Regions from separate parts of the Homo sapiens genome. Here region 2 is linked to region 1. The links come from fine-mapping of genetic effects on gene expression. A gene starts in region 1. The other region holds a variant in brackets. All regions are shown on one strand. Distances are between the middles of the regions. Region 1 holds the start of UBE2F (ubiquitin conjugating enzyme E2 F (putative)). Region 2 overlaps RAMP1 (receptor activity modifying protein 1).

What was found. PIP is the estimated chance that this variant, and not a neighbour inherited with it, causes the effect.
Region 2: its variant is fine-mapped to the expression of UBE2F in whole blood (INTERVAL, PIP 0.96).

The regions. Positions count from the first base shown.
Region 1 is chr2:237,962,308-237,971,647 of GRCh38, forward strand. UBE2F (ubiquitin conjugating enzyme E2 F (putative)) reads left to right here and starts at 4,707. Exons shown (of 10, transcript NM_080678.3): 1 at 4,707-4,825. UBE2F-SCLY (UBE2F-SCLY readthrough (NMD candidate)) reads left to right here and starts at 4,638. Exons shown (of 19, transcript NR_037904.1): 1 at 4,638-4,825. RefSeq lists cis regulatory regions at 1,841-2,244, 2,571-3,234 and a silencer at 4,751-4,930.
Region 2 is chr2:237,901,722-237,911,061 of GRCh38, forward strand. All of the region lies in intron 2 of RAMP1 (receptor activity modifying protein 1), which reads left to right. Among named protein-coding and RNA genes, the nearest start is that of RAMP1, 47 kb to the left of the region's middle. The variant A/G (reference allele first, on the strand shown) is at 3,584.

The DNA of each region.
Region 1 (9,340 bases):
GCACCAGCCCCCTTTATGTCCTGGATTGTGGAGATGTCTGAGCCCAGGCCCTAGCTCCCTGGAGGCACCTGGTAGGGCAAGGCCAGCCCACAGAGGCCAGGACTCAGGTGACAGGCCTGCAGGCAATACACTCATGGCACCATCTCCAGCTTCCCAGAGCTTACCTCAAGTTCTTTGTATCAGCTGCCTCAAGGTGTGCTGGCTGAGGGCAAATCTCAGAGTCAGACTGCCTGGCTTTAAATCCTAGCTCTGCCATTGTTGGAAATGGGAGTTCGGTGTGGCAAAATCAACACTGAGACAAAGGATCTCTCAGCAAGGCTAGTTTAGTTTCTGCAGAAAGGGTGCCGCTCGCTAGCAGTCTTGCCATGAGAGCACACCTGAACAAAGGAGATGGGGACATTTATAATCTTTGTAACCTGATGCAATCGTCCTATGGCTGTGTCCCATTTCCATTGGCCAGAATGGGACCTCACATTCTAAGCTTGACCTGATTGGCTAACAGCTTGAAACTTTTCTAAATAGGTAAAGAGGAAAGAGGACAAAGGAAAGAGGAAGCTAGTCATGAGAGGGTCAGGAGGGTTTCCAAATAAGCTATGGCAGGCACTATGGTCCCGGGCTGCCTTAACCCTGTCCAGGCATGCCAGGTCAAGTCAGAGCAGCTGCACTGGAACATATATAGATATGCATAAAGCAAAGAAATGACAAGCTCTTTATGGTTTTAAGAAACTTTGAAGAACTTCTCTATTCCTCACAGCCATGTTGGACATGTAAACCAAAAATAAAATTCTAAGCCCCCTAATCGACAGAATGGACCCCTCCTCTTGAACAAGGGGATTCTGAAGAAACCTAAAAAATTAGTTCAGGCCATGATGGGAAGGAGGGGTCAGACATGCTGCATTATACCCTCCTCACTTTGGCATTCAAGCACAGCTCACCAGCATTAACATTAAAACAGAGATCATAAGACTGACAAAACAGGCTGTTTGTACTAATAAGATGCCAAATTCCAACTGACTCTAGTATAGCATCACATGACGGTGGGCCCTGAAAGAAAGAGAAATATTTCACCCCAAAATATATTTCTTTGAGTTTTTTTTTTTTTTTTTTTGTGACAGAGTCTTGCTCTGTCACCCAGGCTGGATTGCAATGGAGCAATCTTGGTTCACTGCAACCTCAGCCTCCCGGGTTCAAGTGATTCTCCTGCCTCAGCCTACTGAGTAGCTGAGATTACAGGCGCCTGCCACCACACCTGGCTAATTTTTGTATTTTAGTAGAGATGGGGTTTCACCATGTTGGTGAGGCTGGTCTCGAACTCCTGACCTCGTGATCCCAAAGTGCTGAGATTACAGGCATGAGCCACCGTGCCCAGCCTTCTTTGACATATTTTGAAATGGCCTTGCAAAGCTGTCTCTTGTGGGGAAAATCTACGTTCTGTAGATTTCCCTTTCCAGATCTTTTTCTGATCCAGGAGAGATTAACCAAGAGTCTGGCATCTTTTTAGGTCTGATAAGAAATACTTACCATCTATTTCTCTGAAGCCTGCTACCAGGAGGCTTCATCTACATAAGAACATTTGTCTATACAACACCTTATCTTATCCCAGACACTCCTTTCTATTCATTCCAGTTCGTTAGACAATAACTATTTCAACCAAATTGCCAATCAGAAAATCTTTGAATCTACCTATGATCCAGAAGCTCCTGCCTACCCTTCCCTGCTTCCAGTTATCCTGCCTTTCCAGACTGAACTAATGTACATGTATTGATTGGTGTCTGCCTGTAACTTCTGTCCCCCTGTTACCAAAAAGGGGTCCTGATCCAGACCCCAAGAGAGGGTTATTGGATCTCAAACAAGAAAGAATTCAAGAGGAATCCATTAGAGTAAAGTGAAGCAAGTATATTAGAGAAGTAAGGAAATAAAAGAATGGCTACTACGTAGGCAGAGCAGCCCCAAGGGCTGCTGGTTGGCCACTTTTATGGTCATTTCCTGATTATATGCTAAACAAGGGGTTGATTATTCGTGAGTTTTCCAGGAAAAGGCTGGGCAATTCCTGGAACTGAGGGGTCCTCCCATTTTTAGATCACATAGGATAACTTGCTGTCTTTGCCATGACATTTGTAAACTGTCATGGCACTGGTGAGAGTGTCTTTTAGCAACAGATACATTATAACTAGTGCGTAATGAACAGTGAGGATGAACAGAGAACACTTTCGTCGCTATCTTGGTTTTGGCCGGCTTCTTAATGGCATCCTTTTAACGGCAAGCTCTTTGTGACCTGTACCTGTGCCAACCTTCTATGTCATCCTGTGACTTAGAATGCCTAACCTCCTGGGAATGTAGCCCAGTAGGTCTTAGCCTCAAGATGGAGTTGCTCTGGTTCAAACGCCTCTGACACCCCTAAAATTTATAAAAATCGAGCTGTAATCCAACCACCTTGGCACATGTTCTCAGGACCTCTTGAGGCTGTGACTCAGGCCTTCGTCACTCATATTTGGCTCTGAATAAAATCTCTTCAAATATTTTACAGTTTGACCTTTTTTGCCAACAGACTACTTAACTTCTGTGTCAGTTTCCTCATCTATAAAATGGGGATAATACCTGTTTCATGGGGTTATTGTTTGGATTAATTGAGTTAATAAACTAGGAAGTCCTAAATAAGTCTTAGTGAAAGAATTAGGCAGCCTCATGAAATGGAGCTAGAAATGACTTCATTCATCCACAGCGGTGGAATTTGGGCCTACGTGGGCCAATGTGTGGTGCAATCCATTCTGCAGACAGTGACGCTTATGAGTAAGACAAGTGCTCACGCCATTCCGGCTGCACCTTCACACACTGCAATCTTCAAGCCCTTATCTCCTCTCACCAGGACTCATGCCGCCAGCGCATGCAATCTCTATCCAGCAGATGTGTTTTAATCACCTGCATGTTCCAGGATGGGAAAGGGGGTGGCAGGAGGTGACGCTGGAGGAAGAAGGAAGAGGAGGGCTGAGGAGCTGAGCTTAGTCAGGGAAACAGGCCATGACAATAAGGAAGAGGGAAGTGCAGGGCTCCAAGGAAGACACAGAGGGCACCTGCACTGCCCCACCCCACCCCCAGGCTTTGAGGCCTATCAGAAGTTGGTGTCTTAGCTTAGGAAAACTTGAGAGTTAGCCGGGCAAAAAAGGGAGAGACATGGTCCCAAACACAAGAAATAACACAAGTTGTGTTCTTTCTTTTTTCTTTTTTTTCTGGAAACAGTCTTGCTGTGTCACCCAGACTGGAGTGCAGTGTCAGCTCACTGCAACCTCCGCCTCCTGGGTTCAAGCAATTCTCCTGCCTCAGCGTTCCAAATAGCTGGGATTACAAGGGCGCACCACCACGCCCGGCTTTTTTGTATTTTTAGTAGAGATGGGGTTTTGCCATGTTGGCCAGGCTGGTCTTGAACTCCTGACCTCAGGTGATCTGTCTGCCTCGGCCTCCCAAAGTGCTGGGATTACAGGCCTGAGCCACTGCGCCCGGCTGAGTTGTGTTCTTGACCAGTTTTCCTGACTCCATTCCCACCGACTCACTTAGAGCCAAAGCCTTTATTATTATTATGGGGACAGGGTCTGCCCTGTCACCCAAGCTGGAGTGCAGTGGTGCGATCACGGCTCACTGCAGCCTCAACCTCCTGGGCTCAGGTGATCCTCCCATCCCAGCCTCCTGAGTAGCTGGGACTACAGGCGCGCGCCACCACGCGGCTAATTTTTTTTTTCTTTTTTTGTAGCGATGGGGTCTTGCCACCATCAGGAGGCTGGTCTTAAACTCTTGGGCTCATGGGATCCTCCCACTTTGGCCTCCCAAAGTGCTAGGATTACAGGCGTGAGCCACCGGGCCCGCCAGCCTCCTTTAGGAAGAAAACCTGATAGTCACTCCACTGTTAGAAACCTCTCAGTGGGGTTTTTCGAAATGAAAGTCTAACTCCTTGTCTCTTTCTGACCGTTTCCATGCTGAACCTCATCTTTCTAATGGCCCACTCCTCCAGGGGCCTGCCTGACGCCCAGGACGGCCCCTCGTCAATCACACAGGACGCTAATGGGCGCGGGATGAATCTGGGCGCCCAAAAGAGGACAAGTTGAAATGGATTTTTAAGGTACTTTAAACACATTTAAGAGAGAAAAGAAGGAATAAAAGGGACATGACAAGAACAGTGGGGCCTGTGGGCGCAGCACACGGTTTGGGGTTGGTCGTGGCTTGCGTGTCTGACCGCCCGGTCTCCCTCACCGCCTGCACTGCAGGCTGCGGGGGCCTGTCCAGTCCTTTGCACTCCAGGTGCGGCGCTGGACAGCGGGAGCTCCAGCCACGGAGGCCGCTCCTTCAGGGAAGGATAGCCCGGGCTCCTCCGTGCCCCTAAACCCTGCAGACCACGAAGTGAACCCGTGTTGGAACCAGGTGCAAAACCCCCAGCCCTCCGGCGCTCGGGCTCCAGAGCCAACTCGGAATCCCCGCCCCTAACGCTACTCGCCAATCAGCGGCGGTTGCGAAATCCGTGCCCGCCCCCTGGCCGCGCCCTCTGCCAATGAGCGAGGTCCGAGAGGCCCGTCGCCCAGCCCAGTCCCGATCGGCGCACGCCGCTGTTCGCGTGTCTGGTTCCAAATAAAGTTTTTCGCGACTTTGAATTTTTTTTTTAAAGCGCCCGCTGCTGTCTCGGCTGCCGCGGGCGAGAGCGGCCGAGTCCCCGCCCCGCCACTTCCGGTCCCGCCGCCGGGAGCCGGTGCGGCTGTGAGGGGCCGCGTCTCGCAGCAGCCGCCCGGACCGGGCATGGTGTTGGGCGCCGGGCCCGCCTCGCCTGTCTCGGGGAGCCCAGGTGAGGAGCGACCGTGCGGCTCTGCGGCGGGGCGAGGTGCGGCCGCCGGTGCACGGGCTGGCCTGCGGGCCGGGCGGAGGGCGCGGGCGGTGGCGGGGCCGCCTCGGGCCCGCCGGGTTCCTCACGCCGGGGGCCTGGCGGGCGCGGGCACCCGGACGCGAGGCCGAGCGGCGTGAATGGGAAGGGGCCGCGGGCCGCGGGCCGCGAGCCGGGGGTCGGAGGCGGCGTCGGCGGCCGGGGCGCTGGCCTCGCCCGGCAGTGAGTGACCGCGGCGGCGGCGGCGGGGGACGGCCCGCGCCGAGCACCTGGTGTGAACCAGGCCCTGGGCCGAGCGTGGCACAGACCTGGCCGCGCTCACGCCCCACTCGCGGGATCGGCTGCCTGCCTTGTACGGAGGAAGCGGGGCGTCCAGCGCCTGGCCAAGGTCACCGGCCCGACGTGGCCGCAGAAACCGGGACTGGACTCCCGATCGGGGCAGGAGTCGCGCTAGGCCGTGAGGAGCGGGGGAGGTGAGGGGAGTGACAACTCGCGCCCGGTCCTCGTACCTGCAGCGGGAAGAGTAAGTATGGACGCTTACCTACAACTGGGGGCGGCCAGGCTAGTTTGGAAAATTTTTACCACAGCAAAGGAGACGAGGAAGGAAGGGCATCTTGGAACAATTAGTGCAGCAGAGTCTTGGTTCCAGACCTAGTTCTGCTGGTGTGTCATCTTGGGTGTGGCCTTCCCCTCCCTGGGCTCAGTTTCCTCATCTGTCACAGGAGAGAATTGGGTCCCCCCACTCTGCATTCCCGACCGCCTGGAAGTGGGGGCAGGATGGGTTGGAATAGCCAGAGAAAGCTTCTTGGAGGAGGAGATGTTGGGATGTAGGTAGGAATCTTCCCCTTAAGGAAGGGGTAGGATTCGTTTGTGAAGGGAAGGAGGGCATTCTAGACCTGGGTATCAGACTGAATAGAAGCTTCTGGAAATGAACAGGGTGTTGTGAAGGAACAAAGAGGAAACTGGCCTGCCTGGTGCAGAGGAATCCTGGCTGAGGAGTGAGATGAAGGCAAGGGGGAGCATAGAGGTGGGAGAGAGAGAGAGATTGAGAGACAGAATCACACCAAGCTTAGTGCTGTGGGGCTTGAGGACCCCCCACCTGGACATACCTGCCTTTCAGGTAGTAGGCAGTGCAGGAAGGGGCAGGTTTACTGCTGAACGTAAAAGGGGCTGGGCTCCAAAGATGGTCGGTCAACCAGCGTACTCCTGTGCCGAGCAGGAGGTTCCTGGGCACTGGCATTCTGTAGAAGAGTGGGATGTGGACTTTGTTGTGCCCTGATCGGGGCCCCTTTGGCTGGGGAAGTTGAGTGTCCCCTAGTGACCCGCAGTCCCATCCTTTATGCTTGGATTGAGACGTCTCCATTCGGAAGGAATTGTAAATAAGTAGCCCCCTCACCTTGAGCTGACTGGCCCCTGGTGTCCCTGCACAAGTGACATGGCCTGGTTTTGCCATTGCTTGCAGGGATGCTGAGTAAATATCACTTGATGGCACTAGTAAGTTGCACACCAGATGCTCTTCTCCGGGCTGTCTGAAAGCAGGTCCCACCCAGAGGAGGAACCTAACTGGGCCAATTACAACTTGTGGAATTTAGAAACTGAGAATGCTGTTCAGAACAGCTGATCTGTTACCGAAATGCTGCCTTAGAGCGTAATTTGCAGGAAAGAGGAAGTTTTGTTTTAAACCAGATCTTCAAGAGTTGAAGCATATTGAAGAAGGAAAAGAATTCTGAAGCAACTGCAGGTATTCAGCTAGCCTCTTGACAGTTTGAAGACTTACTTTTTGATAGAATCCTTTGGTTTAAATTTAATTTTACAGCTATGGCAACATTCCCAAATTAGGCCTTGGGTTTATTCTTAAAGTGGCGTGTGAAAATGATACACACGATAGAAAAATAGATGGTCACTATATTAGATTTCTTAGAATGTTAGAGAAGTACATTTTTTATTACTTTCTATGGAAAACAAAGCACCAGTGTTACATTCTTTTATATCTTGCAAGTCACAGACTTGAAGATAGTAAACCAGCAATCTGACTCTTCAGTGGAATTGAATGTTGGAGCGTCTTCTGCCCACAGAGAAGACTTCATCGTGGCGTGATTGGGGGTATAAAAGCGTTAAGCGTAGCCTGCGGGCTGTAGTGGTGCAGAAGAGTTTCTTGGTGGTTGGCCTTTGAGTGCATGAAGGATCTCTCTCCCCAGGCTTCCCTGAGCCTCCTTCAGGGAGCTGCATGTGGCCCTGGTGCTTGCTGTTCTGTGGGACTCTTCATTCTGACTTTCCTAGGTTACTGCCTGCTGAACTCATGTTCAAGCAGTTGTGCTTTTATTTTTCACTCTTTGCTTCATTTGCATTCCCAAGGTCAGCCAGAGACCTGGTAGTCCTTGTGTAGGGCATCTGGTGCGTCCAGCTGACCCCCAGGTGATGGATGGATGCACGTCTTGGTCCATTATTGGGTGACTCTGACGATGTGGCAGGACTGATGTGCTCGAGTCTGCACACGGGGCAGCAGACTTGGCTGGGAAGGGAGACACTGTTCCATGACAAGGAATCCTTGTGAGGGATTTTTGACAAGATCATTCCAGGTAGGGGCTGAAGCAGGAGAGCTTGGCTCTAGATGGTGCTGCTGTCTGTGGTAGCTAAAGCCCCTACAGGTGTTTGTGACTATTTGCCTGTGAAGTAACTTCATCAGCTGAACCCAGCTGCTTTGCTCTGGGCGAAGCTGTGAAGATGTGCTCTTATGGAGGGCCACCTGAGGAGATGGCACAGTAGCGTAACAATGAAGAAACTAATGTTGGTTTATTTTCACATTTTTGTCAACTTTATTGAGGCGTAATTGAAATACACTAAATTGCCCATATTTAAATTGTGTAATTGATCAGTCTGAAACCATGACCACACTCGAGATAAAAACATTTCCTGCCCGGCATGGTGGCTCACGTCTGTAGTCCCAGCACTTTGGGAGGCTGAGGCAGGTGGATTGCTTCCGCTCAGGAATTCAAGACCAGCCCGGGTAACATGGTGAAACCCTGTCTCTACAAAAAAAATTAAAATTAGCTGGACATGATGGTGCCTGCCTGTAGTCCTAGCTGCTTTAGGAGGTGGAGGGTGCTGAGGTGGGAGGATCTCTTGAACCTGGGAGTTTGAGCCTGCACTGAGCTCAAGTCACGCCACTGCACTCCAGCCTGGGCTACAGAGCAAGACCTGTCTCAAAAAACAAACAAAAAACATTTTTGTCATCCACAAGAGGGAAACTAGTGTGTCTGTGGTGACAGCTTCTAGCAGCTGAGTGGCTTTGGGCAGCCTACCTTCTGGGCCTCTGTTGTCCTGGGGTCCACATGTTAAAATGGAATGGGAGTGAGAGAAGTCCATTCCAACTTTGCAATTCTGAGAGCTTATGACCGTGAAAGTGCAGAGCTGTCTTTGAAACCTTTAGACCAGTGCTTCTTAAGGGGTTTAGGGTATGTGTATGTCCGTGTCCTCTAGTGGAAAAGACTGTGCAGTTCAGAAGATCGTATTCTATGTATTGTTTTCGTTTTGAAAAAATTCTTTAAATTTTTTTATCTTTTGAGATGCGGTTTCACTCTTGTTGCCCAGGCTGGAGTGCAATGGCACAATCACTGCAACCTCCACCTCCCGGGTTCAACCTATTCTTCTGCCTCAGCCTCCTGAGTAGCTGGGATTTACAGGCACCCGCCACCATGCCGAGCTAATTTTTTTTGGTATTTTTAGTGGAGATGGGGTTTTGCCATGTTGGGCAGGCTGGTCTAGAACTCCTGACCTCAGGTGACCCACCTGCCTCGGCCTACCGAAGTGCTGGGATTATAGGCATGAGCCACCATGCCTGGCCTGTACTGTTTTCATGGTACAAACAATAGAAAATAAAATCTGACAGCATTTAGGGGATATGCAGAAGATGGTGTGAGAAACTGTGTAAGAGACCTGGGTGAAAAATGGTTTCAAATGCCAATGAGGAACGGAGTATTCTTATTTGACTTTCAGGATCTTAGCCTCAACCTAAAATTTCTGTGCTTAGGTCAAGCTTTTCACATGGAATTTTTAGATCATTTTCTGTTGAAACGATCAGAGTGGTATTGAAATAAAATGATACGAAAGCAACAAAGGAAATTATGGAAATATTGAACTGGTGACAATTTATTTTGTTTTATTTTATTTTATTTTTTTGAGTCTCACTCTGTTGCCAGGCTGGAGTGCAGTGGTGCAATCTTAGCTCACTGCAACCTCTGCCTCCCGGCTTCAAGTGATTCTCCTGCCTCAGCCTCCCAAGTAGCTGGGACTACAGGTGTGGGCCACCACGCCCGGCTAATTTTTTTGTATTTTAGTAGAGACGGGGTTTCACCATGTTGGCCAGGGTGGTCTCGGTCTCCTGGCCTCATAATCCACCTGTCTCGTTCCCCTAAAGTGTTGGGATTACAGGCATGAGCCACGGCACCTGGCCCTGGTGACAAATATTTGTCCTCAGTC
Region 2 (9,340 bases), 61 kb before region 1:
GGTGTGGGATGTGGCCTGGAGAGCCCGTGGTAGCTAAGCCCAGCATGCAGAGTGGAGGGCGGTGGAGGGGTTTGATGGCTGCCCCTGACTAAACTGGGGGAGGCAGAAGAAGGGGTAGATAGATGCCAAGCCCCCACATACTCACTACAGAAAAGTGGAAGCTGGTATGTAAGTTGTAATAACCCATCCACCAGGACGAGTCACTTCTGCCCCATCCTGGGCACAGTGATGGGGCCTCAGGAGGGGAGGGCACCCTTGAGGGAAAGGGGAGCCATGATAACTCAGGGGATAGGCATGGCATGGGGGCCCTGAGTCACATGTGTTCACAGCCAGAAGTGAACAGCCCAGGCTTCAGGTGGAGGAGGGAGAATGGGGAACTCTCAGGTGCAGCCCAAGGCCGAGAGAGAAGGAGCACTTCGCGGGGGATGCCTCTCCTCCGGGGGCTGGTAAGGGCCCGGGGTCTTCAGTGAGTGAGGATGCCCCACTGCCACCCGGAGCAAGGCTGGAGTGAGGATGAGGTGGGGGCCTGGAGCAAGGGCGAGGTGGAAGAGGGAGGGGTAAGGAGGGATCGGGAGGAGGAGGAGGGGCTGGGAGGAGGAGGGAGGGATCAGGGGGTGGAGGAGGGGCTGGGAGGAGGAGGGAGAGGCCAGGAGGAGAGAGGGATCAGGAGGAAGAGGAGGGGCCAGAAGGACAGGGAGATGGAGGAGGGAACAGGAGGACCAGGAGGACGCAGAGGTCTCCGCAGAGGGGGTGGGGGGAACACAGCGAGGAGGAAAGTGGGGTCCTGCCCCCAGGGCCCACCCCGCACCCCCACTCACCCTTCCACAGAGCCCCTTCCTGCCTCAGAGTTGGGTCCCGCGGGGCCCCCAGTTCCACGCAGGAGGCCACTGAGACTGGAGAGGCCCAACGCCCCGTCCCCGCTCCCTGTCTGCCCTGCACGCCTCCCCCATGAGCCGCTGTCACCAGAGGGTCCCAGCCCTGCCTGCACATCAGAGCCCTCTGGTGGGAAGACCCAGGCTGCCCCAGACACCAGGCACGGTGGCTGCAGATGCAGTGACGCCAACATCTAGTTTCCTGTGAGCCTTCCTGCTAAAATGAGCTGTTAAATATAATTATAAAAAGTATGTATGCTCAAGGTAGAAAACCCAAAAAAGTTGAGAGAAAAGTCCTTCGTGTTATTACCATTCTGGTGGGGATCACTCCTGTGACATTCTGCTGTGTCCCCCTCCCATGTGGACCATTTTACCCCAATCCAGGCTGTTTATGGCACCTGGTCTAACCTGCTGCTGCTTTTCAAAACTTTATTTATTTATTTAGCAGAGAGACTGGGTCTCACTAGGTTGCCCAGGCTGGTCTTGAACTCCTGGCCTCAAGCGATCCTCCTGCCTCAGCCTCCCAAAGTGCTAGGATCACAGGCATGAGAGCTGTTCTTCTGCCCAGCTTTAGAACATAAATGTTTTTCCACATCTTAAAATTTTCTTCCTAAATATAATTTTAACAGCTACATAATGGAGCCACTCATAAACAATTTCTGTGACCGCTGTCCTGTTGTTTGCTGTTTTTCATAATTATAAATCTGCAGTGGACACCTTCTTACATCACTGTTATCTATATTTCACATTATTAATTTAGGATAATTCCCAGTAATGCAATTACGGGGTCAAGAGGCATCCGTGAGTTTGAGATTATTGATACATATTGCCAAATTGTGTTTCAGAAAAATTGTACCAGTTTATCTTCCCTGAGGATTGCTATGAGTGCCTGCCTCAGTATCCTACACCTTCACTAGCATTCAGCATTATTTTCTTTTTTTTTGAGACAGGGTCTTATTCTGTTGCCCAGGCTGGAGTGCAGTGGCAGGAACATAGCTCACTGCAGCCTCAATCTCCCACCTCCCTGGGCTCATGTGATCCTCTGACCTAAGCCTCCCAACTAGCTGGGACTACAGGTGCATCCCAGCACTGGCAAATGTTTGTTGTTGTTGTTTCTTTAAGACAGAGTCTCGCTCTGTCACCCAGGCTGGAGTGCAGTGGTGCGATCTCCGCTCGCTGCAACCTCCACCTCCCAGGTCCACGCCATTCTCCTGCCTTAGCCTCCCGAGTAGCTGGGACTACAGGCACCCGCCACCACGCCCGGCTAATTTTTTGTATTTTTGGTAGAGTTGGGGTTTCACTGTGTTAGCCATTTTGTATTTTTTTGTAGAGACAAGGTCTCACTATGTTTCCCAGGCTGCTCTCAAACTCCTAGGCTCAAGCAATCCTCCGGCCTAGGCCTCCCCCAGCGTTGGGTTTACACGTGTGAGCCACCACGCCCAGCCTAGCATTCTCCTTTTTAAGAGGAGTGCCATCTGGATGTTTGGTCTTTCATTTCACATGCTTAGTAGTCATTTGTATTTCTAGAAGAAATATTGGGCCGGGCTCAGTGGCTCACGCCTGTAATCCCAGCACTTTGGGAGTCTGAGGCGGGCGGATCACGAGGTCGGGAGATCAAGACCATCCTGGCTAACACGGTGAAACCCCGTCTCTACTAAAAATACAAAAAAAAAAAATAGCCAGGGCGTGGTGGCGGGCACCTGTAGTCCCAGCTACTCGGGAGGCTGAGGCAGGAGAATGGCATGAACCCAGGAAGTGGGGCTTGCAGTGAGCTGAGATCATGCCACTGGACTCCATCCTGGGCAACAGAGCAAGACTCTGTCTCAAAAATAGAATAAAAATCAAAATAAATAAATAAATGAAAGTTAGCCAGGTGTGGTGGTGCACGCCTGTAATCCCAGCTATTCTGGAGGGTGAGGCAAGAGGATCACCTGAGCCCGGGAGGCAGAGGTTGCAGTGAGCCAAGATCGTGCCACTGCACTCCAGCCCGAGCAACAGAGCAAAACGCTGTCTAAAATAATAAATAAATTTTAAAAAGCGAATATAAAGCCAAAAGTGCTTTCCCCTCAGATTTTCTGACAATTTAGACACACATTGCCTGGTCACCTTTTGCTTAAGTATAAACTCAAAAAGGACAAGAAATGTATACGTCATGAGCCAGTCAAGTGAGGACCTGTATCTTTATCTTAATAGGAGACTAAGACTTGAACAAGCGAATGAGGTCTCCAGGATCACTCTGGGTAAGAGGTGGAGCTGGGATTTGAACCCAGGTCTATGGGTGACAGGGCCCAGGCTCAGATATTTCATATTAGGGCCAGCCGGGGGTAGCTGGGGGACAACTGCAACCCAGGGTGTCCCCAGAGTAGATGACTCACCTGTGAGCATCAGTGATCACACTTTCTTACCAGCAAGTAACCATGAACAGTGGTGTCGGGCCTTGACTTGGGACCCAGATATGCTGGAAACTCCCACCATAGGATTCAGGAACATTCCAAGCAAAGTTTGCTTCGAGCCCCAGAATAGAAGGTCCTAGCCAAAAAAGGATAATTACTCAGTGACACGAGAACTGAAACTTTAGGGAGTTAAAGCCAGGGTGTATTTTTCATGACTATTTTGGGTCCTTCAGTCCGTTCTGTGTTCTTTTGGGCAGAAGAATGTCTGTACTCTGAGGGGAATTCTTTTATCACATCCTCACTGACGGAGCTCACAAC[A/G]TTTATTGAAAGTTTCAGCTGTCACTTCTGTATAAATAAACAGGATGAAGTGGGCAGCCGACTGCACATTAGAGATATTTTTAGACGTGGGTGGCACTGCAATCCAGAAGGCTGACATATCAAGGAGAGAGTGCCTGATCCCAGAATAGCCCACCCACACACGGCCCTATCTGCCTCAGCGTGGCCTCGGCGTGGGTTCTGTGGTGGCGTGGCTTCCTGCATCCGCTCCTTCCTGTTCTGTTTGGCCAGTGCAGAGATGGCAATAGCTCCTCCTAAAAATGCCACAGCTCCGCTCCTCAGAGGACAGGGGTCAGTGTTCAGGATCATGTGTCACTGGATCTGCAGAACACCAAAAACTAAACTGCCTGCGGGTTTGGTGGGTCTGAGATATGGGAGAGGATCATCATTCAAAGCAGGCTTCATTGGTCAGATGCAGTGGCTCACGCCTGTAATCCCAGCACTTTGGGAAGCCAAGGAGGGTAGATCACCTGAGGTCAGGAGTTCGAGACCAGCCTGGCCAACATAGTGAAACCCCATCTCTACTAAAAATACAAAAATTAGCCAGGCATGGTGGACCATGTCTGTAGTCCCAGCTACTTAGGAGGCTGAGGCAGGAGAATCGCTTGAACCTGGGAAGCGGAGGTTGCAGTGAGCTGAGATTGTACCACTGCACTCCAGCCTGGGCAACAGAGCAAGACTCTGTCTCAAAAAAAAAAAAAAAAAAAAGGCAGCATTCTCACTGTTTAGCCCTGTAGTTGAGAAGGCTGGACTTGGTTTTCAGCAACAATAACACGTCTAACATTTACCATGGACCGGCCACATAACGTGCACTCATTCGTTTTTCCCCCACGATGAGACTCAAACCGTCACGACTTCATGTGGCTTTTTCCACTTCTGTTTTCTTCTTGAAACATGAGTCCTTGTTCACCTGGAGAGACCACACACCCCAATGCCTACAGGCACGGCACACTCTCTGCTGCCTCTCCCTCCTCATGCCTCATCTACTAGGCCTCTTGGATGGGCTAAGGGAGGCCCTGCACACTCAGGGCAGTGACCTAGAGGGCAGCCAGGAAGGAAAAACAGTGACCGTACGATAGGGGCGGGGGTAGAGGGGTGCTGGGATGCCGGAGAGGCCCCTACTTTTTCTGTATAGCCTCTTAAAGCCCCCAGGGGTCTCCTCACATTTAATTTATGGCCTCTGATCCATTTACTCACTTTCTAGATTAAATATAAGGAAAAGTACCCTTCTATTGTCTTCATTTTCACTGTTTTTGGAGCCCTTCATCTATTTATGTGGATCTCAAACTCTTTCTTATCACTGAAGAACTTTCTTTGACATTTCTTGTAGCACAGGTCTGCTGGCAATGAATTCTCTCAGCTGCTTTTTTCTCAAAAGGTTCTTATATCAACCTCTTTTTTTTTTTTTTTTTTTTTTTTAAAGACAGTCTTGCTCTGTCACCCAGGCTGGAGTGCAATGGCGTGATCTCAACTCACTGCAACCTCCGCCTCCCAGGTTCAAGTAATTCTCCTGCCTCAGCCTCCCGAGTAGCTGGGATTACAGGCATCTGCCACCATGCCCAGCTAATTTTTGTATTTTTAGTAGAGATGAGGTTTCACCATGTTAGCCAGGCTGGTCTCGAACTCCTGACCTCAAGTGATCCGCCTGCCTTGGCCTCCCAAAGTGCTGGAATCACAGGTGTGAGCCAATGTGCCCAGCCTCAACCTCATTTTCAAAAGGTATTTTTTTCTAGGTATAGAATTCCAGGCTGACAAATGTGTTTCCCCTCCCCGCAACCTCTAATACTTTCAAGATGTTGCCCATTGTCTTCCCACATGACAAGCCTCTGATAAGAAATTAAGAAATCTGCTGTAACTCACTGTTCTTCTGTATGTCTTTTTTCCTCTGACCTCAAGATTTTTTCCTTTTTCTTTGGTGCTCAGCAGTTGGAGTTTGATGTGTCTATTTGGTTGTTTGCTGTTGTAGCTGCTTTGTTTTCTGTCCTGCTTGAGGTTCTCCAAGCTTCTTGGATCTGCGATTTTATGTCTTTCATTATTTTTTTAAAAGCCTGAGCCATTATCTCTTCAAATATTTCTTCTGCTCCATTCCCTCTCCTCTTTCTGGGACTCTCACATTATGAGTTGAGGTTGATGTCATTTATAGGATTGTCATGTTACACAGTTCTTGGATGCTCTGGTTTTCCCTCACTTTTTTTTCTCTTTGTGTTCCAGTTTGGTTAATTTCTACTGACATCTTCAATTTCTCTCTTTCCTCAGTTTTCGTGTCTGCTGATGGGCCCATTGAAGGAATTCTCTCTGATGCCATATCTTTTTATTTCTAGCAACTGTCTTTGACTTTGAGTTTTCACTTCTCTGCTTAAATTCTCCATCTGTTCATGCATATTGTCTGCCATTTCCACTAGACCCGTTGTCATACTAGCCATTCTAACATAACTGTCTGATAGTTACAACATCTAGGTCGTCTCTGAGTCTAACTCCATTCATTGTTTTGCCTCTTGACAATGGGTTGGTTGTTTTTTGTTGCTTCTGAACAAAAAATATATAATTTTTATTGAATACTGAACATTCATGTATAGAACAGAGGTGACTACGGTCAATAGTATTTACATATGGAAATGGGTAATCCTCTTCTGTCAGACCGTTAGTGTGGGATTTGAGTCAATCTTGTTAGGAATTGAGCTGGGTTTGGGATTTGTCATTGTTATGGTTATCTTCAATGTACCATAGGCCTCAAGTACCTCTAGCAATGAGCTGTCATTGCCTTGTGCCCAGGGTTGGGACTAGGGCACTGGAGGAGATTCCTCAGTGTGGTGCCCCACCCTCTGCTTTCAGCTTTCTCTTGCCTGCCTGTGCTGCAGCATGGATCTTACCCCACTTTCTCTCGGCAGTAGACAGCTGCTGCTTGTTATTCTACCAAGGTTATGTTCAAGGCTTGGGGTGGGTTCTCTGTGTACTGGTCCAGCCTCAGTTTAGACAGGCCCTTCCCTGTGCCCTTCACCCCAGCATTCCTACCCCTCTTCCCTGTGGCAAACTCTGTCGGGGTCTTGGGTGTGACTGTCCTGTCCCTTCCCCAGTGAGAAGAGACCTCTGGTGGTGGTGGTGGTGGTGGTGGTGGTGTTTTTGAGACAGAGTCTTGCTCTGTCACCCAGGCTAGAGTGCAGTGGCATGATCTCGGCATGATCTCGGCTCACTGCAACCTCCACCTCCTGGGTTCAAGCGATTCTCTTGCCTCAGACTCCCTCGTAGCTGGGATTACAGGTGCCCGCCACTGTGCCTGGCTAATTTTTGTATTTTTAGTAGAGATAGGGTTTCACCATCTTGGCCAGGCTGGTCTTGAACTCCTGACCTTGTGATCCACCCGCCTCAGCCTCCCAAAGTGCTGGGATTACAGGTGTTAAGCCACCACACCCAGCCAAGGCCTCTGTTTTCTATGGTGCAGGATCGTAGGCCAGGATGGTTTCCTGGTGCCCTTCCAAGGAAAAAGAGTTCCTTCCTATCCTTCCCCTAGCCATGGTGTGTCTTTGTCTGTGCCCTGGGGGTGACAGGCTGTGCTGTTCCTCCCTCAGCAGCCTAAGGCATCTGCTTCCCAGGAGAGAAGAGTCTGGGATGGTGGAAAGGCCTTTGAGCCTGTTCCTACCCTGGCTGCAGCCCTGGTGGCACAACTTCCACAGCAAGCCTGGCATCACACTGGCATCATGGATACGGGGGTGAAGGGGACTCAGCACCTGCCCTAGAGGCACTCAGGCTGCCCCCATGGGGCAAGGGCTCATTCAAGGCTCTCTGGCTTACGGATGCCCACTGTGGCCTCAACCCCCAGTGAGTGCAACTTGGACCCAGACAAGGAAGTGTCCAAGCTGTGGCCAGATCTGGCCACCGAGGGCGAGGGACAGTGGTGAGGTGTGAGACCCGTGCAGTCACACCCTGGCCCTCTCACCTGGCAGCCCTCCAGCCTTCCCAAACCTCCATTTCCCTGTCTACAAAACAATGGGTAACAGCGGTCCCCGAGCATGAGCGAGCTCACACACAGGCCTTGCCGAGCCTGTGCCTGTCATGCAGGGGTACCCAGTGGACCTTCATGATTGCAGCAGTTATCATGGAATGGTGACAACAGTGAATGCCACCAAGACCCCTTCAGGCCATCAGTCCCCAAGAACAGGCTCTGAGCCCCATGAAACGCCAGAGGGGCCTTTCTTCCTGAGTCTCAGGGCTGTTCTGTGAAGCAGGAGGTCACAGGGGGTTGGAGGGAATGCAGGGCTGGAGGCAGAAGGAGCCGGCGTGGTCTGGGCTCTACCCACGGCCAGTGATGTCTCAGAGCCTCAGTTTCCTCTGCTGCAAGAGGCACTTGACACCCACGTCCTGGGTTGGAAGATGACACAGAAAAGCACCGATGGCTGGGTCCACTTGGGTTTTGTCCACTTCATTTCAAAGGGCATCCTGTGGCCTACAAACCCACATCTATGGAGAAAGTTGTTCAGAAACAGATGGCGTTTGCTCTCCCCAGAGAGCCCTGGGGAGCAGAGTCCTGAGAGCACCTAAGGGGCAGGGTGGGAATGAGCTCACCCGCTGTGGCTTCGAGGGTTAAAATTCCTGGAGCAGAGGGGACTCCGCGATGGCTTCTCTCCAAGCCAAGCCCAAGGAACACCCCAATGGCACACCCTCTGCCCGTGCCGCCCAGGCCCCTGGCTCGGCACGGCCACCTCCACTCCCTTCCTTCTAGCCTGGTGGCAGCCATACCTGTGGGTAAAGGCACCTGCAGCCGTGGCAGGATAGGGTCAGAGGCCCTGTGGTGAAGTCCATATGGGGTCACACGTACCCGGTCACACACACAGAATAACACAGTCACACGTGCACACACAGGTTCACACACACAGAATAACACAGTTACACCCACACACAGGGACACACACAGAATAACAGTTACACCCACACACAGGGACACACACAGAATAACACAGTCACACACCCACAGACAATAACAAGTTACGCTCACACACAGGGACACACATACAGAGAATAACACAGTCACACACACACACAATCACACACAGAGAATAACACAGTCACACACACACACAGAGTAACACAGTGTTGCACAGTCACACATAGAATGTCACACACTCAGAGAATAACAGTCACACACAGAGAATAACAGTCACACCCACACACAGTCACACACAGAATAACACAATTACATATACATAGTCACACACACAGTAACACACAGAATAACAGTCACACACACAGAATAACAGTTACACAGTCACACAGAATAACACAGTCACACAGTCACACACAGAATAACAGTCACACAGAATAACACAGCTATACACACACAGTCACACACAGGGAATAACAGCCACTCACAGATAACAGTTACACAGTCACATAGTCACACACAGAGAATAACAGTAACACACAGTCACACAGAAAATAGTCACACACACAGTCACACACAAAATAACAGTCACACAATGTCACACACAGTCACAAAGAGAATAATAGTCACACAGTCACATGCAGAATAACACAGTTACAGCCACACACAGAGAATAACAGTCACACACAGTCACACACACAGAATAACACAGTCATCCACACAGAGTCACACACAGAATAACAGTCACACACACAGAGTCACACACAGTGAATAATAGTCACATACACAGTCACACAGAAAATAGTCACACACACGGTCACACAGAGAATAACACTGTCACACATTGAATAACAGTCACACAC